2 separate regions of the Homo sapiens genome follow, and region 2 is linked to region 1. Evidence: fine-mapped QTL for protein levels in blood plasma. A gene starts in region 1. The other region holds a variant in brackets. All regions are shown on one strand. Distances are from middle to middle.

Evidence for each region. PIP is the chance, under the fine-mapping model, that this variant and not a neighbour inherited with it causes the effect. The UK Biobank Pharma Proteomics Project read protein levels with antibody pairs (Olink). The fine-mapping took linkage between variants from a reference panel, not from the people measured, so its PIPs are less certain.
Region 2: its variant is fine-mapped to the plasma level of the STAT2 protein (UK Biobank, PIP above 0.99). The variant lies in the coding sequence of STAT2. If it changes the protein, the assay may bind it differently, which can mimic a change of level.

The regions. Positions count from the first base shown.
Region 1 is chr12:56,356,667-56,372,572 of GRCh38, reverse strand. STAT2 (signal transducer and activator of transcription 2) reads left to right here and starts at 12,466. Exons shown (of 24, transcript NM_005419.4): 1 at 12,466-12,515. APOF (apolipoprotein F) reads left to right here and starts at 9,716. Exons shown (of 2, transcript NM_001638.4): 1 at 9,716-9,843; 2 at 10,384-12,005. The coding sequence starts at 9,828. The coding sequence ends at 11,348. RefSeq lists enhancers at 11,984-12,073, 12,144-12,323, 13,399-13,568, 13,400-13,599.
Region 2 is chr12:56,332,737-56,348,642 of GRCh38, reverse strand. It overlaps IL23A (interleukin 23 subunit alpha), which reads right to left and starts at 9,759. Exons shown (of 4, transcript NM_016584.3): 1 at 9,437-9,759; 2 at 9,119-9,217; 3 at 8,806-8,952; 4 at 8,233-8,700. The coding sequence starts at 9,598. The coding sequence ends at 8,539. STAT2 (signal transducer and activator of transcription 2) reads left to right here. Exons shown (of 24, transcript NM_005419.4): 19 at 20-114; 20 at 1,688-1,824; 21 at 2,019-2,201; 22 at 2,440-2,497; 23 at 4,508-4,818; 24 at 5,112-7,046. The coding sequence ends at 5,254. PAN2 (poly(A) specific ribonuclease subunit PAN2) reads left to right here and starts at 14,643. Exons shown (of 26, transcript NM_014871.6): 1 at 14,643-14,781; 2 at 15,435-15,830. The coding sequence starts at 15,549. RefSeq lists silencers at 1,200-1,249, 9,464-9,758, enhancers at 8,812-8,981, 9,469-9,768, 9,247-10,446, 11,024-11,871, 14,206-14,375 and 2 more and cis regulatory regions at 14,722, 14,707-14,738. The variant T/C (reference allele first, on the strand shown) is at 5,170.

The DNA of each region.
Region 1 (15,906 bases):
TTTATATCTCCTTTAATTTCTTTCAGCAATGTTTTATAGTTTTCATTGTATAAACCTTTTAACTCCTTGGATAAATTAATTCCTAAGTATTTTATTTTTATCCTATTGTAAATGGGATTGTTTTCAAAATTTTATTTTCAAATGGCTCATTGTTAATATGTAGAGATGCAAGTGGTTCTTGTTTCTTGACTTGTAATCCACTAATTTGCTGAATTCATTTATCAGTTCTAATAGTTTTTTGTGTGAAATCTTTAGGGTTTTCTACATATAAAATCATAAGAAGTAGCCGGGCGTGGTGGTGTGTGCCTGTAGTCCCAGCTACTCAGGACGCTGAGGCAGAAGAATCGCTTGAACCCGGGAGGCGGAGGTTGCAGTGAGCCCAGAAGGAGCCACTGCACTCCAGCCTGGCGACAGAGCAAGACTCCGTCACCAAAAAAAAAAAAAAAAAAATTCATAAGAACAAGAGATAATTGCACTTCTTCCTTTTCAACCTGGATGCCTTTAATTTCCTTTTCTTGCCTAATTGCTCTGGCTAGAACTTTTAGGGCTATGTTGAATGGAACTAGCAAAAGTGGGCATCCTTTTCTTGTTCCTGATATTAGCAGAATAGCCTTTAATCTTTCACCATTGAGTATGATATAATGTTTGTTATGACTTTCTCATACATGCCTTTTATTATATTGAGGTAGTTTCCTTTTATTCCTGGTTTGTTAAATGTTTTCATCATGAAAGGGTGTTGAATTTTGTCAAATGCTTTTTCTGCATCAATTAAGATGATTGTATGATTTTTCTCCTTCATTCTGTTAATGTGGTGAATTATATTGATTGTTTTTCGTACACTGTGCCACCTTTATATTCCAGGAATAAATCCCACAGTGTATAATCCTTTTAATACATTGCTAAATTTGGCTTGCTGGCATTTTGTTGAGGATTTTTGCATCAGTATTCATAGGAGATATTGGTGTATGTTTTCTTTTTTCCTAGTGTATGTCTGCCTTTGGTATCAGGGTAATGCTCACCCCTGGAATGAGTTAGGAAATGTTCCTTCTCTTTGATCTTTTGGCAAAGTTTGAGAAGCATTAGCATTAATTCTCCTTCAAATGTTTGGCAGAATTCACCAGTGAAGCCATCTGGTCCAGGGCTTTTCATTTTGGGGAGATTTTTGATTATTGATGCAATATCTTTAATTCAAATTTTCTATTACTTCATGATTTAGTCTTGGTAAGATATATGTTTCTAGGAATTTGTTCATTTCATCTAGATTATCCAATTTGTTGGCATGTAATTGTTTAATTACTCTTATAATTCTTTTAATTTTTGTAAAATGTAATGTTCCCACTTTCATTTTAACTTTAATAATTTGAGTCTTTTTATCTTTTTTTGTTGTTAGTGTAGCTAAAGGTTTGTCAATTTTGTTCATCTATTTGAAGAACCAACTTTTGGTTGCACTGATTTTCTCAATTGTTTTTCTCTTATCTGTATTATTATTTATTTATTTATTTATTATTATTTTGAGACAGAGTCTCCCTCTGTCACTCAGGCTGGAGTGCAGTGGTGTGAAGCCTCTGCCTCCCCTGTTCCAGTGATTCTCCTGCCTCAGCCTCTCAAGTAACGGGGGTTACAGGCATCTGCCACCATGCCTGGCTAATTTTTGTTTTTTTGTTTTATTTATTTATTTATTTAGAGACAGAGTCTAGCTCTGTTGCCCAGGCTGGAGTGCAGTGGCATGATCTTGGCTCACCGCAACCTCCACCTCCCAGGTTCAAGCAATTCTCTTGCCTTAGCCTCCCAAGTAGCTGGGATTACAGGTATGCACCACCACAGCTAATTTTTATATTTTTAGTAGAGACGGGATTTCACCATGTTGGCCAGGTTGGTCTTGAACTCCTGACCTCAGATGATCCACCTGCCTTGGCCTCCCAAAGTGCTGGGATTATAGGTGTGAGCCACTGCGCCCAGACAATTTTTTTTTTTTTTTTTTTTTTTTTTGAGACGGAGTCTTGCTCTGTCGCCCAGGCTGGAGTGAGTGCAGTGGTACGATCTCGGCTCACTGCAACCTCCACCTCCTGGGTTCAAGCAATTTCCTGCCTCAGCCTCCCGAGTAGCTGGGACTATAGGCGTGTGCCACCAAGCCCAGCTAATTTTTTGTATTTTTAGTAGAGATGAGGTTTCACAGTGTTAACAGAATGGTCTCGATCTCCTGACCTCGTGATCCACCCACCTTAGCCTCCCAAAGTGCTGGGATTACAGGCATGAGCCACCTTGCCGGGCCTATTTTTAATTTTTTCACAAGTATTTGTGCCTAAAGGTATTCTCTGTTTTATTTATCTCTTCTCTAATCTCTATTATTTCCTTCCTTATAATAGTTTTGGGTTTAACTCATTCTTTAATCTTCTTTAGTCTCCTTTAATCTCTTTTAGTAATGTTTTGTAGTTTTCTTTTCTTTTAAAAAAAAACCTTTTTATTATGGAAAATTTCAAATATATAAAAAAGTAGAGAAAATAGTCTATTAAACACCTATTTCTCATCACCTAATTCCAAGAATTATCAATTCATAGTCATATACTCCACATTTTCTCACCTCCACCATTTTCAAGCAAATAATATATTTTCATCCATAAGTATTTCAGTATGAATCTCTAAATGATGAGAGCTCTTTTTTTTCTTTGACTTTTTTTTTTTAATACTTTAAGTTTTAGGGTACATGTGCACAACGTGCAGGTTTTTTACATATGTATACATATGTCATCTTGGTGTGCTGCACCCATTAACTCATCATTTAACATTAGCTATATCTCCTAATGCTATCCCTCCCCCTCCCCCCACCCATGTAGTTTTCAATGTACAAGTTTTACACTTATAGCTGCTATTATAAATGCAATTTTCTTAACTTCATTTTCAAATTATTCATTGCACATATATAGAGATATCATCGATTTTCGTGTATTGATAGTGTATCCTGCAACTTAGCTGAACCCATTTATTAGTACTTATTTTGTGTGTGTGTGTCTATGTGTGTGTAAGTTTGAGTTTTTTTAATATGCAACATCATGCTACCCACTAATATAGGTTGTTTTACTTCATCCTTTCTAATCGGGTACATTTTATTTCATTGTCTTGCTTAATTACTCTGGCTGGAACCTCCAGTACAATGTTGAATAGAAGTAGCAAGAGTGAGCATCCTTGTCTTGTTTCTTCTTTTAGGAATTTTACTTGTTTATTTTAAACACTATTGTAATTGGAATTTTTTTTTTCATTTTATTTTTCTGTAGAAACAGGGTCTCACTATGTTGCCAAAGCTGGTCTCAAATTGCTACCCTCAAGCAATCGTCCCACCTCAGCCTCCCAAAGTCCAGGTGTTACAAGCTTGAGCCATGGTAACCAGCTGGAATTTTCTAAGTTAATTTTCTTTTTTTTTTTTTTGAGACAGAGTCTTGCTCTGTTGCCTAGGCTGAAGTGCAGTGGCGCGATCTTGGCTTACTGCAACCTCCGCCTCCCGGGTTCAAGCGATTCTCCTGCCTCAGCCTCCCGAGTAGCTGGGATTACAGGCGCCCACCACCACACTCAGCTAAATTTTTTTCTTTCTTTTCTTTGAGATGGAGTCTCACTCTATCACTCAGGCTGGAGTGCAGTGGCGCGATCTCGGCTCATTGCAACCTCTGCAGCCCAGGTTCAAGCGATTCTCCTGCCTTAGCCTCCTGAGTAGCTGGGATTACAGGCACACACCACCACGCCCAGCTAATTTTTGTATTTTTAGTAGAGATGGGGTTTCACCATGTTGGCCAGGGTGGTCTTGAACTCTTGACCTTGTGATCCACCCGACTCAGCATCTCAAAGTGCTGGGATTACAGGTGTGAGCCACCGCGCCTGGCCAATTTTTTGTATTTTTAGTAGAGACAGGGTTTCACTGTGTTAGCCAGGATGGTCTTGATCTCCTGACCTCGTGATCCACCCACCTTGGCCTCCCAAAGTGCTAGGATTACAGGTGTGAGCCACCGCACCCGGCCCTAAGTTAACATTCAATGTATGTTTTTAGACTACAGAAATAGAATTCATTTATATATTAATATTTTATCTTGTCACCTTGCTAAATTAACTTATTGGTCCTTTTAAAATTGTATTCTTTAGGATTTATGCATAAACAATCACATTGTTTCTTTTAATTTTTTATTTTTTAATTATTATTTTATTTATCTATCTATCTATCTATTTATTTATTTATTTATTTGAGACAGGGTCTCCCTCTGTCACCCAGACTGGAGTTCAGTGGTACGATCACAGCTTACTGAAGCCTCAACCTCCTGGGCACAAGTGATCCTCCTGAGAAACTGAGACTACAGGCGTGTGCCACCACAGCTGGACAGCTGAGCTGGCTAATTTTTTTTTTTTTTTTTTTTTTTTTTGCAGAAACAGGGTCTCCCCTATGCTGCCCAGGCTGGTCTTGAACTCCTGGACTTTGGCCTCCCAAAGTGTGTGAGCCACCATGCCTAGTCCATGTTGTTTTTATTTTGTATTACTTTTTTAAATTTTATTATTATTACTTTTTGAGACATGGTCTCACTCTGTCACCAAGGTTAGAGTGCAGTGGCAGAATCATAGCTCACTGTAACCTCCCCCTCTTGGGTTCAAGCAATTCTCCTGCCTCGGCCTCCCGAGTAGCTGGGGCTACAGATGCACACCACCACCCCTGGCTGTGTTTTTTATTTTTTGTAAAGATGGGGTTTCACCATGTTGGCCAGGCTGGTCTCGAACTCCTGGTCTCAAGCCCCGCCCCATGTCTTTTTTTTGTTTTTTTGTTGTTGCTGGTTTTTTTTTTTTTTTTTTTTTTTAGATAGACTCTCACTCTGTTGCCAGGCTGGAGTGCAGTGGCGAGATCTCGGCTCACTGCAATCTCTGCCTCCCGGGTTCAAGTGATTCTCCTGCCTCAGCCTCCCGAGTAGCTGGGATTACAGGTGCGCACCACCATGCCTGGCTAATTTTTTGTACTTTTAGTACAGACGGGATTTCACCATGCTGGCCATGGCTAGTCTTGAACTCCTGACCTCGTGATCTGCCCGTCTCAGCCTCCCAAAATGCTAGGATTACACGCGTGAGTCACTGCGCCCAGCCCCCATGTTGTTTTTAAGAGTCTCATGTTCTACCGACTGAGCCAGCCAGAGCTATGTTGTATTTAAATAAATATCGTTCTACATCTTCCTTTCTAGTTTTATGCCATTTATTTTTTATTCTTTCCACATTACACTGGTTAGAACTTCCAGTACAATGAGGAAAAACTGGTAAGAATGGATATTTCTGCTTTGTGATAGATCTTAGGAGACAAGGATTAAATCTTTCACTCCTTCTAGTGTTGCTACACAGAAACTATAGAGTCCTAGGAGGCTGGGTGCAGTGGCTCAGCACTCTGGGAGGCCTAGACAGGAGGATCCCTTGAGCCCAGGAGCTCGAGACCAGCCTGGCCAACATAGTGAGTTCCCTTCTCTACAAGAAAATTTTAAAAATTAGCCAGGTGTGGTGGTACGTGCCTGAAGTCCCAGATATATAGGAGTCCGAGGTGGGAGGATTGCTGGAGCTTGGGAGTTCAAGGCTGCAGTGAGCTGTGATTGTACCAACTGCACTCCAGCCTGGTATACGTGTATGTGTGTGTACGTATATTTTATCCATGTAGGTATATGTATATATATTGTCTTAGGGATTCCCCAGGGGTTTGGGGTCTAGTAATTTCAGACAGTGTTGGACTCCTTTCCACTTAGTTCTTGCTGTTTCTAAGTTGGCACTGTGTCCCTGGAGACTTACTCCTCTGCTTCTGTCTTTGCTCTTAGTTGTCAGGGGCCACTCCTGGGAACTGAAAGAACCGAAAAAAATAGAGGGAGGGACCCTGGACCCTGCCATTGGCCTAGTCCCTTTGGCCATGTGCCTGAGGTGAGTGACATCAGAGGAAACTTTAGGCCATAATGATATGTAGGAACTGGTACCATTTTTAGGAGGCATCAGATGTCTTATTTCCCTAATTTTTGGACTAATGTTACCCCTAAACCCAAGATAAAGCCTAATTCCTGGAGTTTTGGTTAGATTTGGAAAGTTACTGCTCAGCTGATGGACATGTTTTATTTGTGTTTTGCATTGGAATTAGAAAAGTGAAAAATAAACCAGGTGCAGTGGTTCATGCCTCTAATCACAGCACTTTGGGAGGCTGAGGTGGGAGGACTGCTTGAGACCAAGAGTTCAAGACCAGTCTGGGAAACATAGTGAAACCTCATCTCTACAAAAAAAAAAAAAAAAAATTTTAGCTAGGCATGGTGGTGCACACCAGTAGTCACAGCTACTTGAGAAGCTGAGGCAGGAGGATCTTTTGAACCCAGGAGTTAAACGCTGTGGTGAGCCATGATCAGGCCACTGTACTCCAGCCAGGGAGATAGAGCAATACCTGGACTGGACTCTAAAAAAGAAAAAAAAAGTTGCTCTGATTTTGTCTTATTTGTCAATCTGTCCAGTTTCCCTGGACTCCCATCCAGTATATTCTCTTTTTCAGACAAAGTCTCGCTCTGTCACCCAGTCTGGATGGTGCAGTGGTGTAATCATGGCTCACTGCAGCCTTGACCTCCCCAGGTTCAGGTGATCCTCCCACCTCAGCCTCCCCAGTAGCTGGGACTACAGGTGCATGCCACCACTCCTGGCTAATTTTTATAATTTTTGTAGAGACGGGGCTTTCGCCATGTTGCCTAGGCTGGTCTCAAACTTCTGGGCTCAAGCCATCTGCCTGCCTTGGCTTCCCAACCAATATATTCTTTTAATAAGAAAAATGGTGACCAGGCGCTGTGGCTGGCTCAAGCCTGTAATCCCAGCACTTTGGGAGGCCAAGGTGGGCAGATCACCTTAGGTCAGGGGTTCAAGATCAGCCTGGCCAACATGAAGAAACCCCGTCTCTACCAAAAATACAAAATTAGCCGGGAATGGTGGCACACGCCTGTAATCCCAGCTACTTGGGAGGCTGAGGCAGGAGAATCACTTGAACCTGGGAGGCGGAGGTTGCAGTGAGCTGAGATCGCGCCATTGCACTCCAGCCTGGTCAACAAGAGCGAAACTCCGTCTCAGAAAAAAAAAGAAAAGAAAAATGGTTTAGGGGTCCCAGAGATCACCAGCTATTCTGCCTTACCCTTTCTCCCCTCAAGAAGATACGGAGGACCTTTTCCTCAGCTCAAATATAGGTTTAGGGTAAAACCTTAGGATAGAAAAGATATGTCACTGGGTGCCGTGGCTCACGCCTGTAATCCCAACACTTTGGGAGGCCGAGGCAGGCAGATCATTCGAGGTCAGGAGTTTGAGACCAGCCTGACTGACATGGTGAAACTCCATCTCTACTAAAAATACAAAAACATTAGCTAGGCGTGGTGGCGCACACCTGTAGTCCCAGCTACTCGGGAGGCTGAGGCAAGAGAATCTCTTGAACCTGGGAAGTGGAGGTTGCAGTGAGCCAAGATCACGCCATTGCATTCCAGCCTGAGCAACAGAGTGAGACTGTCTCCAGAAAACAAAACAAAACAAAAATTTGCCAGGCATGGTGGTGCGTGCCTGTAATCCCAACTACTAGGGAGACTGAGACACAAGAATCGCTTGAACCCGGGATGTGGAGGTTGCAGTGAGCTGTGATCGTGCCACTGCACTCTACCCTGGGCAACAGAGTGAGACTGTGTCTCCAGAAAAAAAAAGGAAAAGAAAAAGAAAAAGAAAAAAAAAAAAAGATATGGGACAGGACTGCAGGGCCTAAAAGGGGAAAGGTCAGTTTGTCAGTATGGGTCAAAGGTGAGAAGGACAAAGTCTGGGCTGGGAAGAGATGCATAAATATTTGCAAATGTTTTGTCCTTCACTGTTTTGGAAGCCATCAACTTTCTGGTTTCCTTGTGATTCTGGGAAAGGGCAGATTAAAAACAGCAACAACAACAATAATAGTAATTCAGGTCATGAAGATACCAAAGCAAATGAGATGTTTGGACTGTTTTTTTCCTCTGACTTGTTTCTCCTCAAAATAGGAGGATCACCCACATCCTTTAAGAGTGAAGATGAGGTGTGCTCAGGGCAACCGAAGTTTCCAAGAGCTAAGACACTTTCTAGCTCTGGCCAGTCTTGGTGTCTCTTTGTCCTGAGCCTTTCTCCACTTCCCAACCTGAGCACTGCTTCCTTCCAGCAGGGCTGCTCTGCTGTCCCCCCATGGTCCAAGCTGTGCTGCTGCTTTGCTGTGTCCTGCTGTCCCTGGTGTCTGCCTTTCCAAGAAATGCTCAGAATGAGACTCTGACCCTCCAGCCATCTTTAACAGAGACTGGGCATCCATCAAACATGCTCTCCATTATTTGGAGAACATGGAGAGCCAGATTCCTCTCCCAGATCCCAGGATCTGCCAAGATCTCTTACACACAGCCCCCTCCCTAGCCCCTCTGCCTGAGTACCTGTCCAACTTAGCTCTGAGGGTGCCCTTGGAGGAGGTGGGCTGCCCAACTGAGGCCCATGTTCTGCAGTTTCAGATGCGAGGAAAGGATACCACTGAAACCCTCATCCGTGAGAGTCAAAAAGTTCAATGGGGAGGAAGGCAATACCAACATCATTGTGACGAATCTAGTAGTCCCTTAGGGAAGTGTGAATAAACCCAGCACCCAGCTGCCCATCCTGGGAAATGTATGGATGGTGGCAAATATACCCACTGGGGTAGCTGGCCTACCAGGTAGCTCAGATGGTGATTGAGTTTGCTGAGAAACCATCTCCCATGATGCTTGGTGTCACAGTTCAAAGTTTTGGGTGTCCACATCACCAAGAACTGCAGGTATGAGTCTTGGGAGCATATTGAAGAATTAGGCAAAAAGTTGAAGAAGCTCTCAAGATCATTTAAATTGTCCATGGACAGTGACAATATAATCTATCAAATGTTCCACAGCTATTCTGAAGTGCTTTGTGAGGAAAATGATCCAGGAATTGATCCCGGCTCATTTCAGCTATTCAATATCACATAAGTAATGAGTCTCCTTTCCCAGGACTGTATTCAAGGATGGCACACAGTAAGTAGTTAGAAATGTTGGAGACCACTTAGGACAGATGAATGCTCTTTATTTCACCTCTTCCCTTAAACACATATGTGACCAGTGTTAGCCTTGCCCCTCTCCACTTAGTAGGTGTCAGCTCCCCTCCTTTTTTTTTTTTAAGACGGAGTCTCACTCTGTCACCCAGGCTGGAGTGCAGTAGTGCGATCTTGGCTTACTGCAACCTCCACCTCCCGGGTTCAAGCAATTCTCCTGCCTCAGCCTCCTGAGTAGCTGGGACTACAGACGCCCACCACCACGCCTGGGTGTATATATATATATATATATATATATATTTTTTTTTTTTTAGTAGAGACAGGGTTTCACCATATTGGCCAGGCTGGTCTCGAACTCCTGACCTTGTGATCCGCCCGCCTTGGCCTCCCAAAGTGCTGGGATTACAGGCGTGAGCCACCATGCTCAGCCGCTAATTTAATTTTTAAAATGAAGAGAAATGAGAGTATCACAAACATCTCATCTTTCCTAATTCTGAATTTCCCTGGCTCCTATCATGAGCTTAGAGTGGGAATGTGGCAGGGACATACAGGAAATGCCAAAGAACAGGACTGTAGGCATAGAGGTTGAGTGTGTGACAAGGGGCACAAGGTTTGAGCAGCCAGTATAAATGGGCAAATATTTGCAGAGATTACATCCTTCACTGATCATAGGGGAAAGCAAATATCTCCTTTCCTCATGGGACACAGAACTAGGCAGAACAGGATCAGGAAGCGATCAAACCTACCAAGGCAGTCTCACTTCTCAATGACTGGACTGTGTGGTAATTTGGGGTCCCTATATATGGGTGGAAATAAAACAGAAGTCCCTGGTGACCTGTAAATGGGGGAGACCAAGTGGGAGCAACTGGGGTGCATTTCCTATTTCCTAGGCCTTTACCTAAAAAGAACAGAAGCTTGGGGCCAGGCGCGGTGGCTCACATCTGGAAGCCTATCACTTTGGGAGGCGGAGGTGGAAGGATCACTTGAGCCCAAAGTTCAGAACTAGGCTGGGCCAGATGGCAAAACCACGTCTCTACAAAAAATTTAAAAATTAGCTGGGCATGGTGTCACGCACCTGTAGTCCCAGCTGCTTGGGAGGCTGAGGCAGGAGGATCCCTCGAGCCCAGGAATTCAAGGCAGCAGTGATTTGTGATCCCATCACTGCACTCTAGTCTGGGCAACAGAGCAAGACCCTGTCTCTAAAAAGAAAGTACAAAAGCTTGGAAGCAGGTGATGTATGAGGTGTCCCCCTAACTGAGTCTTGGGCTCACCATCGCCCTTAGGGAAATGGTTTGTATGTTTCGGATTTCTCCCCTTTCTAGGGTACTCTGCTCCAGACATGCGTGGCCTCAGACTCATCATGATACCAGTTGAGCTGCTACTTTGCTACCTCCTGCTGCACCCTGTGGATGCCACTTCATATGGAAAGCAGACAAATGTCTTGATGCACTTTCCCTTGTCCTTGGAATCCCAGACACCCTCCTCAGACCCCTTGTCCTGCCAATTTCTGCACCCAAAGTCACTGCCTGGTTTCAGCCACATGGCCCCTCTACCCAAGTTCTTGGTAAGCCTGGCTCTAAGGAATGCCCTGGAGGAAGCTGGTTGTCAGGCTGATGTTTGGGCTCTACAGCTACAGCTCTACCGCCAGGGTGGTGTGAATGCTACACAGGTCCTCATCCAGCATCTTCGAGGGCTCCAGAAAGGCAGAAGCACAGAGAGGAACGTGTCAGTGGAAGCCCTGGCCTCTGCTCTGCAGCTGTTAGCCAGGGAGCAGCAAAGCACAGGAAGGGTCGGGCGCTCCCTCCCGACAGAGGACTGTGAGAATGAGAAGGAGCAAGCTGTGCACAATGTAGTCCAGCTGCTGCCAGGAGTGGGAACCTTCTACAACCTGGGCACAGCTTTGTATTATGCTACTCAAAACTGCCTGGGCAAGGCCAGGGAACGAGGCCGAGATGGGGCCATAGATCTGGGATATGACCTTCTGATGACCATGGCTGGGATGTCAGGGGGGCCTATGGGTCTAGCGATCAGTGCTGCACTTAAACCTGCATTAAGGTCTGGGGTTCAGCAGTTGATCCAGTATTACCAAGATCAGAAAGACGCAAACATCTCTCAGCCGGAGACCACCAAGGAGGGTTTGAGGGCCATCTCAGATGTGAGTGACTTGGAAGAAACAACTACTCTGGCTTCTTTCATATCAGAAGTAGTAAGTTCAGCTCCCTACTGGGGGTGGGCCATAATCAAGAGCTATGACTTAGATCCTGGGGCTGGGAGTCTTGAGATATAAAAGAATGTGGTAACCACAGAATTAATAACTGTACTACCCTGACAAGCTATATACATGTCTTCAAAATTTTAATCTGATTTATCCAGGAGGAAGGCTGTACAGTAAAACGTAAGAACGTAAATGTTTGGGTGTTGAAGTCACAGGGTTTGGTTTCGAATCTAGGCTCCACTTGTTAGAGCCTCGGTGATCACTGAATAGTAACTTCTTTCTTGAACTAAGATCAGTTTTGAAGTTTCTAAAGGAGATAGAATGATTTTAACCTCAATGAGTTGCCCTGTAAATTTAAAATGATACAATGAATCTAAAATGCTTATCACAGTACTTTCAATAAATAGCTATTAGCCAGGTGCGGTGGCTCACGCCTGTAATCCCAGCACTGTGAGAGGCTGAGGCGGGATGATCACCTGAGGTCAGGAGTTCAAGATCAGCCTGGGCAACATGGCGAAACCCCGTCTCTACAATAAATACAAAAAATTATCCTGGCGGAGTTATGCACGCTTGTAGTCCCAACTACCTGGGAGGCTGAGGCGGGAGAATCACCTGAGCCTGGGAGGTCGAGGCTGCAGCGAGCCGAGATCGCGCCGCTGCATTCCAGCCTGGGTGACAGAGCGAGACCATGTCTCAAAAAATAAAAATAAAAAAAAATTGTTTTCATTACCTCAGCCCTCCTCTTCCTATCCCAAGGCGTCGAAATTCCGGTCCCACCCCTTCCCATGGAGCCCTTGGCGTCTCCAGGCTCCTCAAGCTAGTTTCGGTTCCGGGGCTCACGCGCGGGTTCTCGAAAATCAGCTGTTTCAGTCTTGGGCTAGTCCACTAATTGGACTCCTCCCCTCGTAGAAAGTGCCTACTTGAACTTCTCCACCAATCGCTGAAGCTGCAGGTGTGGTTTCGGCTCAGCTTGTCCCGCCCTGCGGAGGGGCGGAGTTGCGGCGGCGCCAGTGAGCTCGCAGTCTGGGAAGGGCTTGACTGAATGGCAGCCAGTGTCGGGGTGGCGGCTGGGAATGGGGGCCGCTCCGGACTTCCGCTGCCAACTACAAGGGGGCGGGTCCGAGGGGGGTTAGCCGAAGTTGTAGGCGGGGCGCGAGGTTCTAGTACCCGAGCTCATACTAGGGACGGGAAGTCGCGACCAGAGCCATTGGAGGGCGCGGGGACTGCAACCCTAATCAGGTACGGGCCCTGAGAGGGTGTGCTGGGGTAGGGGTGGGGGTGAGAGTGAGAGTTCCTCCGAGGGAAGGGCGACTGGCCCCAGGGGTTACCCCCTGGAGAGGGTAGCTTCGGTCCCCAGATTGAAATAGGAGCTGTCGCCTGCTCGGTCCTCGATCTTCTTCTGTCCAGCCTATCTCCCTAACCCTAATGCCCCTCTCCCAAAACTGCCCTGCAGCTTCCGAGACCCGGAATCTGGCATTGTTATGTTGGTTCGGTATCTGACGTTTTTCCCTCTGCTCTGCATTATTTTTTATCTTCACCAAAAAACGATGTTCAAAGATAGATAAATCTAAAAACAAAGATAGATAAATCTATTATCCTTGTTTTGTTAAAAAGTATAAGCTACTGAAAGATGAAACGATTGCCTAAGGTCACACACAAAATTCAGTTCATTTCAGAAAAGCTTCTTGAGTGCAAAATATGTGCCTAAGAATGAGAGATAATGAGAAAAAATTGTTTCAGCCCTTAACCTCAGTGTTTGCAATCCATTTGGGGAGACCAGGTTTTTTGTTTTGTTTTCATATTTGAATCTTTGCTGACTTGCTCCTTTAATATCAGACACTTAAATCCTCAAGAATTGGGACCTCATCATTAATTTTTTTTTGGAGATGGAATCTCACTATGTTGCTCAAGCTTGGTCTCAAACTCCTGGGCTCAAGCCATCCTCTCGTCTTGTGGGCCTCACAAAGTGCTGGGATTACAGGCATGAGCCATCATGCCTGGCCACCTGATCATTTTTTTAACTTTTTTTTGGTATCATAAAAGCAATACAGATACATAGTTTTAAAAATCAAGCACTACTAAAAGAGTTAAAATGAAAATAGCCCCTGCCCAATCCCTCCCTTCCCTTGTTCCTGCTGGAGGTAGAAAGGCAGCTGATGTTATTCATGTTAGTAGAAGACTCTCCCACCCCAAGCATTTCTCTTTATTTTGTAATAAAATCATGTGACCTTTTTAGACCACAAATATGCATGAATTCTGTTCTGTTAGGCTCAGGCTGCAACAAGCATAAGTTTCAGTTTCCTAAATAGACACCAGCTGGCAGTGAGCAGGGAACAGTGGGGAGAAAGATGCATGGGACAGCCTGCTTGGTGACAGGCAAAAACCAATTTGTTGTTCTTTTGAGACAGAGTCTTGCTTTGTCACCCAGGCTGGAGTGTAGTGATGTGATCTCTGCTTACTGCAACCCCTGCCTCCTGGGTACAAGCCATTCTCCTGCCTCAGCCTCTTGAGTAGCTGGGATTACAGGCAACAATTTTAAGTGAAGTTTCAGGATCTCACAAAGTTGATAACCTATAATCATATTCAAGATTCACAGGTCATAAACGTGTCATATTCTTGGGATTGAGCCACCCATTGCACAGCATTTAGATGTCTTCTAGAATGGAGCTCCTCCTTCCTATATGGAGGGCAGTTTATATGGTGTACTTACCTGACCACCAAAAAGATTTGGCTCCTAAAAAAGCTTCAGGTGGCCGGGCATGGTGGTTCACCCCTGTAATCCCAGCACTTTGGGAGGCCAAGGTGGGCAGATCACCTGAGGTCAGAAGTTCCAGACCAGCCTGGACAATATGGTGAAACCCCATCTCTACTAAAAATACAAAAATTAGCTGGGCATGGTAGTGGGCGCCTGTAATCCCAGCTAGTCGGGAGGCTGAGGCAGGAGAATCCCTTCAACTCGGGAGGCAGAGTTTGCAGTGAGCCGAGATCGTGTCACTGCACTCCAGCCTGGGTGACAGAGCAAGACTCCATCTCAAAAAAAGAAAAAAAAAAAAAGAAAAAAAAAAGCTTCAGAGCCAGCAGGGATCATGCTGTAATAAATACTTAACATCAACACTGATCTTTAAATGCTTTAGCACAATCAAATATAAATAACAAACACACACATAAATGCAAAATAAATGAATTAGGGAGATAGATGAAATAAGATTGTGGAAATAGTAATGTTTGTTAAAGCTGGATGGTGATCCTTGTACTATTCACTCTACTCTAGTGTGTATTTGAAAATTACCATTAGGCTGGTTATGGTGGCTCATGCCTGTTAATCCCGGCATTTTGGAAGGCTGAGGCAGGCGGATTACTTGAGCTCAGGAGTTTGAGATCTGCCTGGGCAACATGGCAAAATCCCATCTCTACAAAAAATTAGCTGGCATGATGGCACACTCCTGTAGTCCCAGCTCCTTGAGGGGCTGAGGCAGAGAATGGCTTGAACCTGAGAGGTCAAAGCTGCAGTGAGCCAAGATCATGCCACTGCACTCCAGCCTGGGTGACCAAGTGAGACCCTGTCTCAAAAAAAAAAAAAAAAAAAGAAAGAAAATTCCCATTAAAGCACAAAGGCCCACTTATTGAAGCTATTAAAATACAGGTTGGGGCCGGCTGGGCACAGCGGCTCACGCCTGTAATCCCAGCACTTTGGAAGGCCGAGGTAGGCAGATCACGAGTTCAGGAGATCGAGACCATCCTGGCTAACACGGTGAAACCCCATCTCTACTAAAAATACAAAAAAAAAAATCAGCCGGGCATGGTGGCGGGAGCCTATAGTCCCAGCTACTCGGGAGGCTGAGGCAGGAGAATGGCATGAGCCCGGGAGGCGGAGCTTGCAGTGAGCCAAAATCACACCACTGCACTCCAGCCTGGGCAACAGATCGAGACTCCATCTGAAGAAAAAAAAAATACAGGTTGGGACCACAGTGGCTCATGCCTGTAATCCTAGTACTTTGGGAGTCCGAAGTAGGTGGATCACCTGAGGTCAGGAGTTTGAGACCAGCCTGGCCAACATGGCAAAACCCCATCTCTACTAAAAAATATACAAAAATTAGCTGGGCGTGGTGGTGGGTGCCTGTAATCCCAGCTACTCAGGAGGCTGAGGCAGAAGAATCACTTGAACCAGGGGGATGGTGGTTGCAATGAGCCAAGATCATGCCACTTCACTCCGGCCCAGGCAAAAGAGTGAGAGTCCATCTTAAAAAAAAAAAAAAAAAAAAAAAAAAAATACAGATTAGGCATTCCTAATCTGAAAAATTTGGCTCCAAAATGCTCCAGTGAGCATTTCCTTTGAGTGTCATGTGGGTGCTCAAAAAGTTAGATTTTGGACCATTTCAGATTTCAGAGTTTTGGATTAGGGATGCTCGACTGGTAAGTAATGCAGATATTCCAAAATCTGGACAAATCTGAAATCCAAAATGCTTGGAATAGCAGATACTCAACTGGTAGCACTCCCTGGAAGAATATGCACCAAACTGATAGCAGTGGTTACTTCTGGAGAGGAGGGGAAAGAACCAAGATTAGCAGTAGGATCAACATATATTTTAATGTTTTCTGTATTTTTATTACTTGTATAATTTAAACATTT
Region 2 (15,906 bases), 24 kb after region 1:
CTTTCCATTCCTCCTCCAGCGAGAGAGCCCTCCTGGCAAGTTACCATTCTGGACATGGCTGGACAAAATTCTGGAGTTGGTACATGACCACCTGAAGGATCTCTGGAATGATGGGTAAGGCCTTGGTCACCCTTCCCTCATGGGCTTGTGCTTTCCGGGCTTGAGAGTGGAGTCTCTGCACCCTCACGTGGCAAGCAGGGAGAGAGAGCAAAGACAGGTGCAGGCCACGTCTCCTCACATTTGTTAACAATAATAAGGCCGGGTGTGGTGGCTCACACCTGTAATCCCAGCACTTTGGGAGGCCGAGGCGGGCGGATCATGAGGTCAGGAGATCGAGACCATCCTGGCTAACACGGTGAAACCCCGTCTCTACTAAAAATACAAAAAATTAGCCGGGCGTGGTGGCAGACACCTGTAGTCCCAGCTACTCAGGAGGCTGAGGCAGGAAAATGGCGTGAACCTGGGAGATGGAGCTTGCAGTGAGCCGAGATTGCGTCACTGCCCTCCAGCCTGGGTGACGAGCAAGACTCCGTCTCAAAAAAAAAAAAAAAAAAACAACCAATAATAGCCATAAACAGTGTTTGTGAAGCATCTCCTACATTCCAGAGCTTGATGGGTGCTCTTCATTAATTCTCTCATCTCATCCTTACAACCATGCTGAGTGGTGGGTTTTGCCAGCTTCATTTCATGTGAGGAAACTGAGTTTCAGAGAAGTTAAAGAACTTACCCAAGGGACACAGTTGATATTCAAATCCAGGCCTATGTGACTCCAAGCCCATGCTCTTTCCACCACACTGCCTACCAACTTGTGTAGCATTTGGCTTTTAAAAGTGCTATTCATGACCAGGCACGATGGCTCACGCCTGTAATCCCAGCATTTTGGGAGGCCGAGGTGGGTGGATCACCTGAGGTCAGGAGTTTGAGACCAGCCTGGCCAACATGGCGAAACCCCATCTCTATTAAAAATACAAAAATTAGCCGGGTGTGGTGGTGGGCGCCTGTAATCCCAGCTACTCAGGAGGCTGAGGCAGGAGAATCGCTTGAACCCAGGAGAGAAGGTTACAGTGAGCCAAGATCGTGCCATTGCACTCCAGCCTGGGTGACAGAGCAAGACTCTGTCTCAAAACAAAACCAAAAAAAAGTGCTATTTGTGGCCAGGCGTGGTTGCTCATGCCTGTAATCCTAGCATTTTGGGAGGCTGAGGAGTACAGATCACTTGAGCCCAGGAGTTCAAAACTACCCTGGGCCACGTGGTGAAACCCCGTCTCTACGAAAAATACAAAAGTTAGCCAGGCATGGTGGTGTGCACCTGTGGTCCCAGCTACTCTGGAGGCTGAGAGGTGGGAAGATTGCTTGAGCCCGGGAGGTCGAGGTGGCAGTGAGCTGTGATCATGCCACTATTCTCCAGCCTGGGTGACAGAATGACACCCTGTCTCCCAGAAAAAAAAAAAAGTGCTGTTCATCTGTGTGATCTCACTGAATCTTCGTACTTCAAACCCTCGGAAGGTGGCTATTGTCAGCAAAGTGAAGTGACTTGTAAAAGATAAAAAAAAGCTAAGTGGCAGGGCTTGGTCCAAAGCCTGGATTCCAAACCTGGGCTGTTTCTCCATACAAGGGGAGCAGGGAGGCAGGGGCCTGGTGGGGCAGGGTGTTGGGCGGTGTCTCACAGCTGCTCTCTGTGCTCCAGACGCATCATGGGCTTTGTGAGTCGGAGCCAGGAGCGCCGGCTGCTGAAGAAGACCATGTCTGGCACCTTTCTACTGCGCTTCAGTGAATCGTCAGAAGGGGGCATTACCTGCTCCTGGGTGGAGCACCAGGATGATGGTCAGCTGCTCTGCCCTGCCATTCCCACAGCCTCTCCTTTCTGCCTGGCTCCCCTCTTGCCCCTCTGCCTGCCCTTGGCTTCCCTGGCTCTGAACTGAATCCCTCAGCTGGTTTGGGACTGGGCAGCCAGAGCAGAGAGCTCCAAGGCCCGGCCTCTTCCCTCAAGCCCGCCTGTTCCTGCATTCACTCTCCAGACAAGGTGCTCATCTACTCTGTGCAACCGTACACGAAGGAGGTGCTGCAGTCACTCCCGCTGACTGAAATCATCCGCCATTACCAGTTGCTCACTGAGGAGAATATACCTGAAAACCCACTGCGCTTCCTCTATCCCCGAATCCCCCGGGATGAAGCTTTTGGGTGCTACTACCAGGAGAAAGGTGGGAATCGTTGACATACTTCATTGCTAGATTGCAGAGATCTACCAGACATCCATAGATCCCACTCCTTCCTTTAAAGCATGGGAAAACTGATATCTAGAGGAATTAAGGGATTCGTCCATGGGATACTGCTGGTTACTATGGGGATGAGACTGCCAGGACCATCTGCACTAGGGGAACCTCAGGCTATATGTCTGGCCCACTGATCTTCTCTGCTTCTTGTATATGTTCCTCACAGTTAATCTCCAGGAACGGAGGAAATACCTGAAACACAGGCTCATTGTGGTCTCTAATAGGTGAGATATGAACTCTTCATTCATCCTCCCTAATCCTTTTTGGCTCTGCTTCAGTGAATCGTCAAAAGGGGGCATTACCTTCTCCTGGGTGGAGCACCAGGATGATGGTCAGCTGCTCTGCCCTGCCATTCCCACAGCCTCTCCTTTCTGCCTTCTCCTAAGCTGCCCTATTCCAGTCTCCCCAGCCTTCCCTCCCTCCTAGCCCACTCTAGTTTTTTCTGGTTCTAGTCTCTCCTATCTCATATTTTTCTGCTGCCATCCTTAGGTTGTCTCCACAGGGGTTTCTGGATAATAATGATCATAATCACTGGTGTTAATGGGTACCTACTTGATGCAAGCATGGAGCTTTTTTTTTTTCCAGACAGGGTTTTGTTCTGTCGCCCAGGCTGGAGTGCAGTGGTGTGATCCTGGCTCACTGCAGCCTCGACCTCCTGAGCTCAAGCAATACAGGCATGCATCACCAAACTCAGCTAATTTTTTTTGTATTTTTTGTAGAGATGGGGTCTTACCATGTTGCCCAGGCTGTTCTTGAACTCCTGGACTCAAGCAATCCACCCACCTTGGCCTCCCAAAATGCAGGGATTACAGGCGTGAGCCACCACACCCCGCATATATATATATTTTTTTTTTTTTTTTTTTTTTTTTTTTTTGAGACAGGGTCTCTGTTATCCAGGCTGGAGTGCAGTGGTATAATCATGACTCACTGCAGCCTTGACCTAGGGGTTGAAGCAATGCTCCTGCCTCAGCCTCCCAAGTAGCTGAGACTACAGGCACACGCCATCACACTCAATCACACTCAGCTAATTTTTTAAATTTTTTGTAGGGATGGGGTATCACTGTGTTGCCCAGGCTGGTCTTGAACTCCTGGCCTCAAGCAGTCTCCTGCCTTGGCCTCCCAAATTGCCGGGATTGTAGGAATGAGCCATGGCACTTGGCTGGGGATAGAATTTTTTTTTTTTTTTTTTTTTTTTTTGAGACAGTCTCACTCTCATTGCCCGGGCTGGAGTGCAGTGGTGCAATTTCAGCTCACTGCAACCTCTGCCTCCCAGGCTCAAGCAATTCTCCTGCCTCAGCCTACTGAGTAGCTGGGATTACAGGCGAGCGCCACCCATGCCTGGTTAATTTTTGTTTTTTTTTTGAGACAGAGTCTCGCCCTGTTGCCCAGGCTGGAGTGCAGTGGCACGATCTCAGCTCACTGCAACCTCTGCCTCCCAGGCTCAAGCAATTCTCCTGCCTCAGCCTCCTGAGTAGCTGGGACTACAAGCGCGCACAACCACCACACCTGGCTAATTTTTGTATTTTTAGTAGAGACAGGGTTTTACCATATTGGCCAGGCTGGTCTCAAACTCCTGACCTCATGATCCGCCCACCTTGGCCTCCCAAAGTGCTGGGATTACAGGCGTGAGCCTCTGCACCCGGCCTAACTTTTGTATTTTTAGTAGAAACAGGGTTTCACCATGTTGGCCAGGCTGGTCATGAGCTCCTGGCCTCAAGTGATCTGCCCGCCTCAGCCTCCCAAAGTGCTTGGATTACAGGTGTGAGCCACCATGCCTGGCCTGAGAGTTTATTATGCGCCAGGCACTAGGCTAAATGGTTTGCATTTATTTTCTCATTTTATTGAATCTACAAAATAGTCCTGTGAAGTAAACACTGTTACTGTTTTCAGCTAAGGAACTGGATTTAGAGTAGTCAAGTTTTGTACCTAAGGTACGTGGCTAATGATACAGGTCTGTTAGATTCCGTAGCCCTGATTTTAACCACCCTACTGCCTCTCAAGAATTACTAGGTATTGTTCTCATTTATAGATGATAAATCTGAGGCTCAGAAAAGTTAGGCCACTTGCCTAAGGTCCCCCAGCCAGGATTCAAACTCCAGGAGGCCTGATTCCAAACCCATGCTCTTTAGCCCTCCGCCCTACTGCCTTCTTAGACTAGCTTCTGCTTATTCTACCATTCCTGATTTCATTTGAACCACTGAGCCCTGCCCCTTTGTCTGTCTTTGGGTATCCAGACAGGTGGATGAACTGCAACAACCGCTGGAGCTTAAGCCAGAGCCAGAGCTGGAGTCATTAGAGCTGGAACTAGGGCTGGTGCCAGAGCCAGAGCTCAGCCTGGACTTAGAGCCACTGCTGAAGGCAGGGCTGGATCTGGGGCCAGAGCTAGAGTCTGTGCTGGAGTCCACTCTGGAGCCTGTGATAGAGCCCACACTATGCATGGTATCACAAACAGTGCCAGAGCCAGACCAAGGACCTGTATCACAGCCAGTGCCAGAGCCAGATTTGCCCTGTGATCTGAGACATTTGAACACTGAGCCAATGGAAAGTAAGTGATGAGATGGAGCTATGGAAGATGGCACACATTCCCTTTCCTACCTCTTCTCCCTCTCCCATTACAGAAAAAGCTGAACTCCAAGCTCCTCATTGGAGAGAGGTCCATTCTGTGATTCCTTTTTTTAGGAATTACACATGCCTTCCCCCACCTCCCTGCTCTTTCATCCCACAAGTTCCCACTCAGGCTCTTCCCAGGCCTTTCCTGCCATCCTCCCTCCCTTTCCCTGCTGGGTTGGGAACTCCTAACTAAGATCGGGGCCTCACTTTTCTCTCTGGATTACCTAGTCTTCAGAAACTGTGTAAAGATTGAAGAAATCATGCCGAATGGTGACCCACTGTTGGC[T/C]GGCCAGAACACCGTGGATGAGGTTTACGTCTCCCGCCCCAGCCACTTCTACACTGATGGACCCTTGATGCCTTCTGACTTCTAGGAACCACATTTCCTCTGTTCTTTTCATATCTCTTGCCCTTCCTACTCCTCATAGCATGATATTGTTCTCCAAGGATGGGAATCAGGCATGTGTCCCTTCCAAGCTGTGTTAACTGTTCAAACTCAGGCCTGTGTGACTCCATTGGGGTGAGAGGTGAAAGCATAACATGGGTACAGAGGGGACAACAATGAATCAGAACAGATGCTGAGCCATAGGTCTAAATAGGATCCTGGAGGCTGCCTGCTGTGCTGGGAGGTATAGGGGTCCTGGGGGCAGGCCAGGGCAGTTGACAGGTACTTGGAGGGCTCAGGGCAGTGGCTTCTTTCCAGTATGGAAGGATTTCAACATTTTAATAGTTGGTTAGGCTAAACTGGTGCATACTGGCATTGGCCCTTGGTGGGGAGCACAGACACAGGATAGGACTCCATTTCTTTCTTCCATTCCTTCATGTCTAGGATAACTTGCTTTCTTCTTTCCTTTACTCCTGGCTCAAGCCCTGAATTTCTTCTTTTCCTGCAGGGGTTGAGAGCTTTCTGCCTTAGCCTACCATGTGAAACTCTACCCTGAAGAAAGGGATGGATAGGAAGTAGACCTCTTTTTCTTACCAGTCTCCTCCCCTACTCTGCCCCTAAGCTGGCTGTACCTGTTCCTCCCCCATAAAATGATCCTGCCAATCTAATGTGAGTGTGAAGCTTTGCACACTAGTTTATGCTACCTAGTCTCCACTTTCTCAATGCTTAGGAGACAGATCACTCCTGGAGGCTGGGGATGGTAGGATTGCTGGGGATTTTTTTTTTTTTAAACAGGGTCTCACTCTGTTGCCCAGGCTAGAGTGCAATGGTGCAATCACAGCTCACTGCAGCCTCAACCTCCTGGGTTCAAGCAATCCTCCTACCTCAGCCTCCTGGGTAGCTAGCACCATGGCATGCGCCACCATGCCCTATTTTTTTTTTTTAAAGACAGGGTCTTGCTATATTGCCCAGGCTGGTCTTGAACTGGGCTCAAGTGATCCTCACGCCTTGGCCTCCCAAAGTGCTGGGATTATAGGCATGAGCCACTGTGCTTGGCCAGGATTTTTTTTTTTTTTTTTTTGAGATGGAGTTTCTCTCTTGTTGTCCAGGCTGGAGTGCAATGGTGTGATCTCGGCTCACTGCAACCTCCGCCTTCCGGGTTCAAGTGACTCTCCTGCCTCAGCCTCCCCAGTAGCTGGGATTACAGATCTGCACCACCATGCCCAGCTAATTTTGTATTTTTAGTAGAGACGGGGTTTCTCCATGTTGGTCAGGCTGGTCTCGAACTCCTGACCTCAAGTGATCTGTCCACCTCGGCCTCCCAGAGTGCTGGGATTACAGGCGTGAGCCACTGTTCCCAGCAGGAATTTCTTTTTTATAGTATTGGATAAAGTTTGGTGTTTTTACAGAGGAGAAGCAATGGGTCTTAGCTCTTTCTCTATTATGTTATCATCCTCCCTTTTTTGTACAATATGTTGTTTACCTGAAAGGAAGGTTTCTATTCGTTGGTTGTGGACCTGGACAAAGTCCAAGTCTGTGGAACTTAAAACCTTGAAGGTCTGTCATAGGACTCTGGACAATCTCACACCTTAGCTATTCCCAGGGAACCCCAGGGGGCAACTGACATTGCTCCAAGATGTTCTCCTGATGTAGCTTGAGATATAAAGGAAAGGCCCTGCACAGGTGGCTGTTTCTTGTCTGTTATGTCAGAGGAACAGTCCTGTTCAGAAAGGGGCTCTTCTGAGCAGAAATGGCTAATAAACTTTGTGCTGATCTGGAAATGTCTCATCTCTGATCCTCTTTATTTCCCTGCTCACAAAGGCTAATGTTCTTAGGGACACCAACAAGCTGCACAGGAATGAAGTCAGAAAATTGTGGCCTCTCTTCCATCCACCCCTCTACATTCCTCTTGTCATATTTCTTCTTCCCTTCCTGTTTGGAGTAGCCCCTCCTGTCCGTTAGACTCTTCTAGGGGTGCTGGGAGCTATATATGCATTGTGGGGGGAGGGATGAGTAGTTATATAACTGTCTCATTGTCACTCAGCTGATTGTTGGCAAAGCCAAAACACAAACCTGTCTGGATTTTTCTGACTTCAAACCCACACTTTTTGATGCTGTGACTATGGAAAAAAAAGGAAAGGAAATAATCACTAGCCACTTCCCCTCATCTTTTCTTTTTTTCAAAGAATTTCAGCTACCCTTGAGTTACCAAACTTCCAAAGGGACTCCAAGGCCGGGCATGGTGGCTCATGCCTGTAATCCCAGCACTTTGGGAGGCCGAGGCAGGTGGATCACCTGAGGTCAGGAGTTCAAGACCAGCCTGACCAACATGGTGAAACCCCATCTCTACTAAAAATACAAAAATTAGCCAGGCGTGGTGGTGCGTGCCTGTAGTCCCAGCTGCTTGGGAGGCTGAGGCAGGAGAATCGCTTCAACGTGGGAGGCGGAGGTTGCAGTGAGCAGAGATCACGCCACTGCACTCCAGCCTGGGCAACAGAATGAGACTCCATCTCAAAAAAAAAAAAAAAAAAAAAAAAAAAAAGGGATTCCAATTGTCCTTTGAGAGGAAAGTCCCATTATTCTAGGATATTTATCTTCATTTCCCTGGAATGCCCTTCCTGCTCAAAGCTGAACTCTGACTTTTGATCCTGCAATGATCAGGACTCCCGTCTTTGATCAGATATACTCTTGGCCAAGAAAGCAGGGAAGGAGACACTGGATCAGGGAGCAAGTGACCCTTAGGTATGATCCCACTTCCTAATCTGGTAATCCCATTCTGCTTGCTCAGCCATATAGGAATTAATACTAAAGAGATCCCAGTTATTCTATACACCAGGGGGTCATGAGAAAATATCATTCTCCACCATAGCCCTTCAGAATAGAAGAAAGGGATGCATATTGTAGTCTCTTGGCCTTATTTTTCCATCGATTTCTCTTTCCCAATTGAGCCTAGAAATTAGACTCATATAGCCACAAAAATAAGACTTTATTGAAAAAAGTACATAATTCAATATAAATACAATAAATAATCCTCCCCAAACTGTCCCCAGGAGGATAAATAATCCCCAAATTTCCCTTCCCATCTAATAAATACTCAACCTTATCATAGGTCAGCATCACATGTCAGTCAGTATTGGTAATTTTCAACATATGCAGGTCCCACTAAAATTAATGGACTAATTAACCTGTTGGCTCACAGGTGCCTGGGGTGGTAGATTTATCTTGGCCTTGCTGGGCCATGGAGATCTGAGTGCCATCCTTGAGCTGCTGCCTTTAGGGACTCAGGGTTGCTGCTCCATGGGCAAAGACCCGGGCGGCTACAGCCACAAAGGCCTGGAGGCTGCGAAGGATTTTGAAGCGGAGAAGGAGACGCTGCCATGGCTGGCTGGGACTGAGGCTTGGAATCTGCTGAGTCTCCCAGTGGTGACCCTCAGGCTGAAAGGACATAGGACACAGTCAGAGAAGACTCTAAACCCTTAACCCCCAACCCTCTGTCTCTGACACCTGCAAGCCCCCATCCTCCACGCCCCTACTTCATACCTGCAGGAGTTGGCTGAGGCCCAGTAGGGAGGCATGAAGCTGGCCCACAGGGCTATCAGGGAGCAGAGAAGGCTCCCCTGTGAAAATATCCGATCCTAGCAGCTTCTCATAAAAAATCAGACCCTGGTGGATCCTTTGCAAGCAGAACTAGGGAGAAAAGAAAGCAATGAAAGAGGACACCCTCTTCCTACTCCATTCACTGAAGACTCACCCAGTTTCTTACTATTTTCAGACACAACTTCTGGTTTACCATGGTACCCAGCCATGTTCTCAGTCCCCTCTCCTTCATTGCCCAGCCACATCCCAGTGGTACCTGACTGTTGTCCCTGAGTCCTTGGGGGTCACAGCCATCTCCACACTGGATATGGGGAACATCATTTGTAGTCTCTTCATCTCCCTCTTCTCTTAGATCCTGGAATGAAGGAAGAGGTGGAAAGAATGAAGAAGTAAGATAGTACTTCTGAAGCCAACCTGGACCCTCAGGCCCATGACTCTCCCAGGAACCCTACTCTCTTGTCCTCTCTTACTCCCTAATGGCCTTCAACCCTCCAGCTTCCACTCAAGGTCACGGTCTTCTGCCACAGCCTTGGAGAGCCTGGACTCCTGTTAGGCTCCAGGGGCTGCCACTCACCATGTGTCCCACTAGTGGATGTGCACTCCAGGCCAGTGTGCAGAGCTTCTGTGAAAGCTGCTGGCACTGAGTCCAGGCAGGGCTGCTGCCCCCAGGCACAGCTCTGCCCTGAGCTGTCCAGGGCAGCAGCAACAGCAGCATTACAGCTCTGCTCCCCAGCATCTTTTTGCCTTCTTCTCAAATCTGGCTGGCTCTGCGCCTTGCACCAGTCCTGGTGGAATCTCTGCCCACTTCCACTTGCTTTGAGCCTGATTCTCTCTGTTCAGCGCGTCTCTGGTTTGGTTCCCTCAGTTGTTCACCGAGTTTGTAAGCTGCTTCCTGTTGTTTTTCTCCCTTTGTCTCTGAGTCTTTTAAGGTCCCTGCATTGTAAGGCCCGCCCTTTATACCAGCAGGTGACTCACAGCAGGTGGGATTCCCCTCCCTGCATCATCCCCCTCTGTGGGGAGCCCAGGTATGCAGCCTCAGTTCCAGGGGAAATGAGTAGTGTGGTTGCTGTGGCTAGAGGCCTGGGATGGGACACATGTGTAATGCTCTCCAGGAATCGAAATAGCTATAGAAGGGGCGGGGATGGGGGGCACAGCGGGGATGGGGTGGGAGGGGTAAGGGAGAACAAATATTTAAATTAATCTGGTCTCAAGTTCCTTCCTGTTTGATCTTTCCCTGATCTTTTTGCCTCTCAAAGCTATACCCCTACCCCACCCCAAACCTAATTTCCTCACTTCCTCCTGCTTGAGGAAAAAGCAAAACAGAGAAACATCCATTCATCTCCCAATAGGATGGTGAGCTGTTTGCAATGAAGTTTGATTCCTACCTGATGCCCCCTATTAGGAATAAACGGGCTTCTTTTTCTCAGTTGGAAACAACATTATTTCAACTGGATGGTCCTGGTTTCATGGGAGAGAATGCGCATGAAGGAACTTGGAGAACTGGGAAGCCAGTATGAGGTCTTATTGCTCCCCATTTCAGGCCTCACAGTGGAGGTTAGAAAGGCTCTTGTGGGAAGAGGGTTATTGACTAAGAACCACCTGACTCCTCAACCCTAGTGGCCCAAGATTTCATAGGCTCTATAAGAGTTGGATGATGTTTTTTTCAGGACTAGTGCAAATAAGGCCTGGAAGTTCAACTTAGACATTCCAGCACCTAGTCCCATGGCCTCATTCTGACGTCATCCAAATTGTTCTGGGACCCTCCACTGGGGTCGGGGCAGTCCCAGCTTTGGACCCCATGGCTAGGAAGCCCAGGAGTTCTGGGTAGTCGAAGGTGCACTGTCAATGACTCTGGCTGGTCCTTCAGCTTGTTGCATCCATGGGTAAAATCCACTGACACCGATTTCATCACCCTCCATGATGCAACATCGAGTGAAACAGCTAAGAGTGTGAGGTTGGGCGTGGGAGTGGAAGGTGGTCCAAAGCCGGGACTGCCCCGACCCCAGTGGAGGGTCCCAGAACAATTTCGAAGACGTCAGAATGAGGCCATCGGTGACCACACAGCTGGCTCCCAAAGCCTCCCCCAAGAGGTTGACCCTTTTCTTCTGAGAAACTTGTCCTGAATGGAGGTCTCCCTTCCCTTAGAGCTATTCAAAACTGCCCAATGACACTTCTGGTTCAAATATTATGATTCTGTAGGTATGAGCTAAGAGAAGAAAAAAAAATATTACGATTCTAAGTTAAATCTACCAAGGGCCGGGTACAGTGGCTCACGCCTGTAATCCCAGTACTTTGGGAGGCCGAGGCAGGCGGATCATGAGGTCAGGAGTTCGAGACCAGCCTGGCCATCATGGTGAAATCCTGTCTCTACTAAAAATACAAAAATGAGCCAGCACGGTGGTGGGCGCCTATAGTCCCAGCTACTCGGGAGGCTGAGGCAAGAGAATCGCTTGAAGCCAGGAGGCAGAGGTTGCAGTGAGCCGAGATGGCGCCACTGCACTCCAGCCTGGGTGACAGAGCAAGACTCTGTCTCAAAAAAAAAAAAAAAAAAATGGAAATCTACCCTTTAGATTAAACATTTCCAGCATCAGAGAATTATCTGAGTTTGGGTGAGAACTGTTTTGCCTCTCTCCCTAATAAGGTGGACACCAATGGAATAAGGAAAGGGGAGGGGGCAGGATAGGGAGTTCACCTTACTTGTGTACAACGTCTCCTATGTTCTTCCCATCTCTGGTCCCCATTCTGGGAGCCCTAAAAGATAAGAGATGAAAGAAAGATGAAAAGGAGGAGGAAGTAGAGCCTGGGGGATGGGATGAGAGGGACAAGGGTGAGTTGGAGGCACAGGGCTCTGCCTCTTTGTTTCACTTCCTGGTGCTGCAGGAGTTGGGTAGGAAGAAGGGTTGGTGGGGAGATTGTGGGACTGTTGCGTGGCAGGAACTACATCCAGGGCTACAACTGACCTGGAGCTATAAGGAGCCCTTGACGTCAGCTGGGCCTAAACCGTTATGCAAATCGCATTCACAAGACACTCCTAGGCAGGTCTTTCCAGTTGTATGCCTAGACTCCAAATCAGTTGAAGTTCCCCCAGGTGGTTAATAATGATGGCTAATATATCCAACTCTCGCTTAATGCCAAATACTTTGTCTAAGCACTTTACATGTACTAAACTATTTAATTTTCACAACAACCCTTTAAGGTAGATACTATTACCCTATATTACAGAGGAGGAGGCTGAGGTGCAAAGATAAGCAATTTGCCCAAGATCACAGAGCTTCTAAGTGGCTAGAATTCCTTTTTTTTTTTTTTTTTTTTTGAGATGGAGTTTCGCTCTTGTTGCCCAGGCTGGAGTGCAATGGTGCCATCTCATCTCACCGTAACCTCTGCCTCCCGGGTTCAAGTGATTCTCCTGCCTCAGCCTCCCAAGTAGCTGGGATTACAGGCATGCACCACCATGCCCGGTGGCTAATTTTGTATTTTTAGTAGAAACAGGGTTTCTCCATGTTGGTCAGGCTGGTCTTGAACTCCCAATCTCAGGTGATCCACCCGCCTGCGGCCTCCAAAAGTGCTGGGATTACAGGCATGAGCCACCACACCCAGCTTAAGTGGCTAGAGTTCTAATGCAGACAATCTAGCATCAGATCCTGCATTCTTTTTTGTTCTTGGTTTTTGGGGGGTTTTGTTGAGACAGGGTCTCACTCTGTCACCCAGGCTGGAATGCAGTGGCACCATTTCCGTTCACTGCAACCTCCACCCCTGGGACTACAGGCACAAGCCACCATCCCGGTCTGGATCCTGAATTTTTAATCACTGCATTACACTGGATACTGTACGCCAGGTATGGTGGCTCATGCCTGTAATCCCAGAACTTTGGGGGGCCGAGGCAGGAGGATCGCTTGAGCTTAAGAGTTCAAGACCAGCCTGGGTAACGTGGCAAAACCCCACCTCTACAGGAAAAAAAAAATTATCTGGGTTTGGTGGCCAGTGCCTGTAGTTACAGCTAGTTGGGAGGCTGAAGTGGGAGGATCGCTTGAGCCCAGGAGGTTGAGGCTACAGTGAGTGAGAGGGCCAATGCGCTTAAGCATGGGCAACAGAGTGAGATCCTGTCTCAAAAAAAAAAAAAAAAAAAGGCTGGGCGCGGTGGCTCACACCTGTAATCCCAGAACTTTGGGAGGCCGAGGCAGGCAGATCACCATCTAATATTACTGTATTAGAAACAGTAATTACAGCTGAGCTAAATAATCTATGTCATGGATGCTCTTGTGTCTCCTCACAGTATCCTTTTTTCTTTTCTTTTTTTTTTTCTTTTTTTTGAGACGGAGTTTCGCTCTTACTGACCAGGCTGGAGTGCAATGGTGCCATCTCGGCTCACTGCAACCTCCGCCTCCCAGGTTCAAATGATTCTCCTGCCTCAGCCTCCCAAGTAGCTGGGATTACAGGCTCCCGTCACCAGGCCCGGCTAATTTTGTATTTTTAGTGGAGACGGGGTTTCTCCATATTGGTCAGGTTGGTCTCGAACTCCCGACCTCAGGTGATCCGCCCACCTCGGCCTCCCAAAGTGCTGGGATTACAGGCGTGAGCCACTGCGCCCGGCAGACATGGATTATTTAGCCCAGGTTATTAGGGATCTGTAACTCTCATGGGTCTGTTAAGTCTTTCTCAATTTGAGACCTCAAGATGGAGATTTCTTAAAGTGTAGGAACTGTCTATGTCTCTCAGCATCCACCTTTTTCGGAGATTCTATATCTAATGACCTGCGAAGTCAGATCAAATCAGTTTGAGAGACCATCTGTGTTTTTCTCTTGGTCTAGGCTCTAGGTAGGATCTCTGACTGGGTATAGGACCCCACCCCTCTGAGTCCTAGAAATTTAAATTCTTGGTTCCTTTAATGAAGGTCTATTTACCAGCCTTTATTGAGAGAAATGTTATAGAATTGAATCCTCCATGAGGAATGTCTCCCATCAGAGTCCCTTTATGTGGCCTTTAGAAACAGTAATAACAGCTGAGCTAAAGTGCTCTGAGACATCTCACAACCTAGACCCATTTCAAAGTAATTAGAGTTCACAGGACCCACGAATCCTTCAGAATAACAAGTCCCAATTTGCCATGCTCATCCCCCTCTGAGGGATAACGTCCAGCCAGCCTCAAGAGCTAGGGGAATTTGATAACCAGGGGCATCTTGTTACCCGGGAATGTTACCGGGGTCTCTGGGGAGGGAACAATCACGGATGGGAGTTTCAGATGGATGCCTGTAGAAGATGCAGCCACTTGGACTGTGTCAGGAGTCCGGCTCCCGCTTCCTTTTTTTTCTCTCCCATATCTGGAAATAATAGGAAATGCCAGCGAGTTTTGGGGGCAACAGGGTCAGAGGTGGCGGAGTGGCTCACTAGGGCACCGCAGGAAGAGGAGGTAGACTAAGCCCCGCTGGGAATACCCAACAGCGACTCCTAGTGCTTTGCCTTGTGTGTCCCTTATTTTAGAGTTCCTAAAGTTATAGAAAGCATAAAAGTTTGGTTTTCAAACCTAGACGTAATTTTGTTCAAGAAGACTAAAAACAGAGTTACTTTCTAACGCCACCCAACAAGTCCGGCGTCTGGCTGCGTTTGTCCCACCGGCGCCCCGTAACCTCTTTTTCCGGCGCGTGCGTCACACGCTCTCTCCTGGGGTCGCCGTACCTGGCTCCTTCTGATTGGCTTAGATGCGCCCGGAGCCCTTCTGATTGGCTAAAATATGCCCCGAGCCCTTCTTGATTGGAAGAAGCGCCTCGGACCCCGGTCCTTGGCGCCGTAGTGGTTAGGTTGAGCCCTAGGCGTGGGGGAGAACTGGGGAAACTGGAATTTCCCGCGGAGCTGACAGCGCTTGCGCTCCCCCTACTCGTTCTAATTCCACGCGCTCCAAAATATCCGCCATGGAGAAATCTTGGTAATGACCCATTCCCCGTAAGCATCCCAGGAACACATCTGACCCTTGCCCTATCCCCCTCCTCACCGCTGCCGTGGGAGAATTCTAGATAACCGATTTTTCTGGTTCCCCCAGAGAATTCTGGGTAACTAGCCGTTTCCGTCACCTTCCCCTGCCCCCGCCCCAATTGTGGGTAACTGGCCATTATTGTTTTCCTCTAGAGAATCCTGGGTAGCTATTGGAGAGGATTCTAGGAAACTGACTTCTCGTTCTCCCCACCGTCCAATCCACCCGTTTTCACCCCCAATTCTGGGAGAAAGCACCTTAAATCCCTCTACCTAACTCCAACCCCCGCAATTCTCGCTCCCTTCACCTGATGATTCAGGGCTGAACAAGGCAAGTGAGCAGTCCGAAGTGAGAAGAAAGGGAAGTCAAGGATTAGGTTAGATAATGGGGTGGTGGAGAGTACAGAGGGCCTAGCGGAGGAGGGATAGGGACAACAGTTCTACCACCTCCACCCCCACTGCCCATCCCTCCCCCGCCTGCTTCATCCTTTGGCTGGCAGTCTCATCCCTCATGCCTGCCTCATCTCCCTCCTGCCCCCATAACCTAGAAGACCCTAAGTACCAGTACCTGGGCCTACCCTTGACTCAGCTACCTCTTTCCCCTTACAGGCCAGGATGTCCATTCTAGGCCCATCGGTGCTGTCTTGCTGAAGGTTGGGTCAGGCATCTAAAGGGACTGTGGTAAGGGAGGGTGTGACACAGGTGTAAGCTGCCATCGTCATCATGAACTTTGAGGGTCTGGACCCTGGACTGGCAGAATATGCCCCAGCCATGCATTCTGCCCTGGACCCTGTCTTGGATGCCCACCTGAACCCAAGTCTGCTACAGAATGTGGAGCTGGACCCAGAGGGAGTGGCCTTGGAGGCTCTTCCCGTCCAGGAATCAGTGCACATAATGGAAGGTGTCTACTCTGAATTGCACAGCGTGGTGGCTGAAGTGGGTGTACCTGTTTCCGTCTCCCACTTTGACTTGCACGAGGAGATGCTGTGGGTGGGGAGCCACGGGGTAAGAACTGTACCCCTTTGTGAGGGTTGAAAGATGTTGAAGGTCTTTATCTGGTCTTAACCCAAGGAAGCTGCTT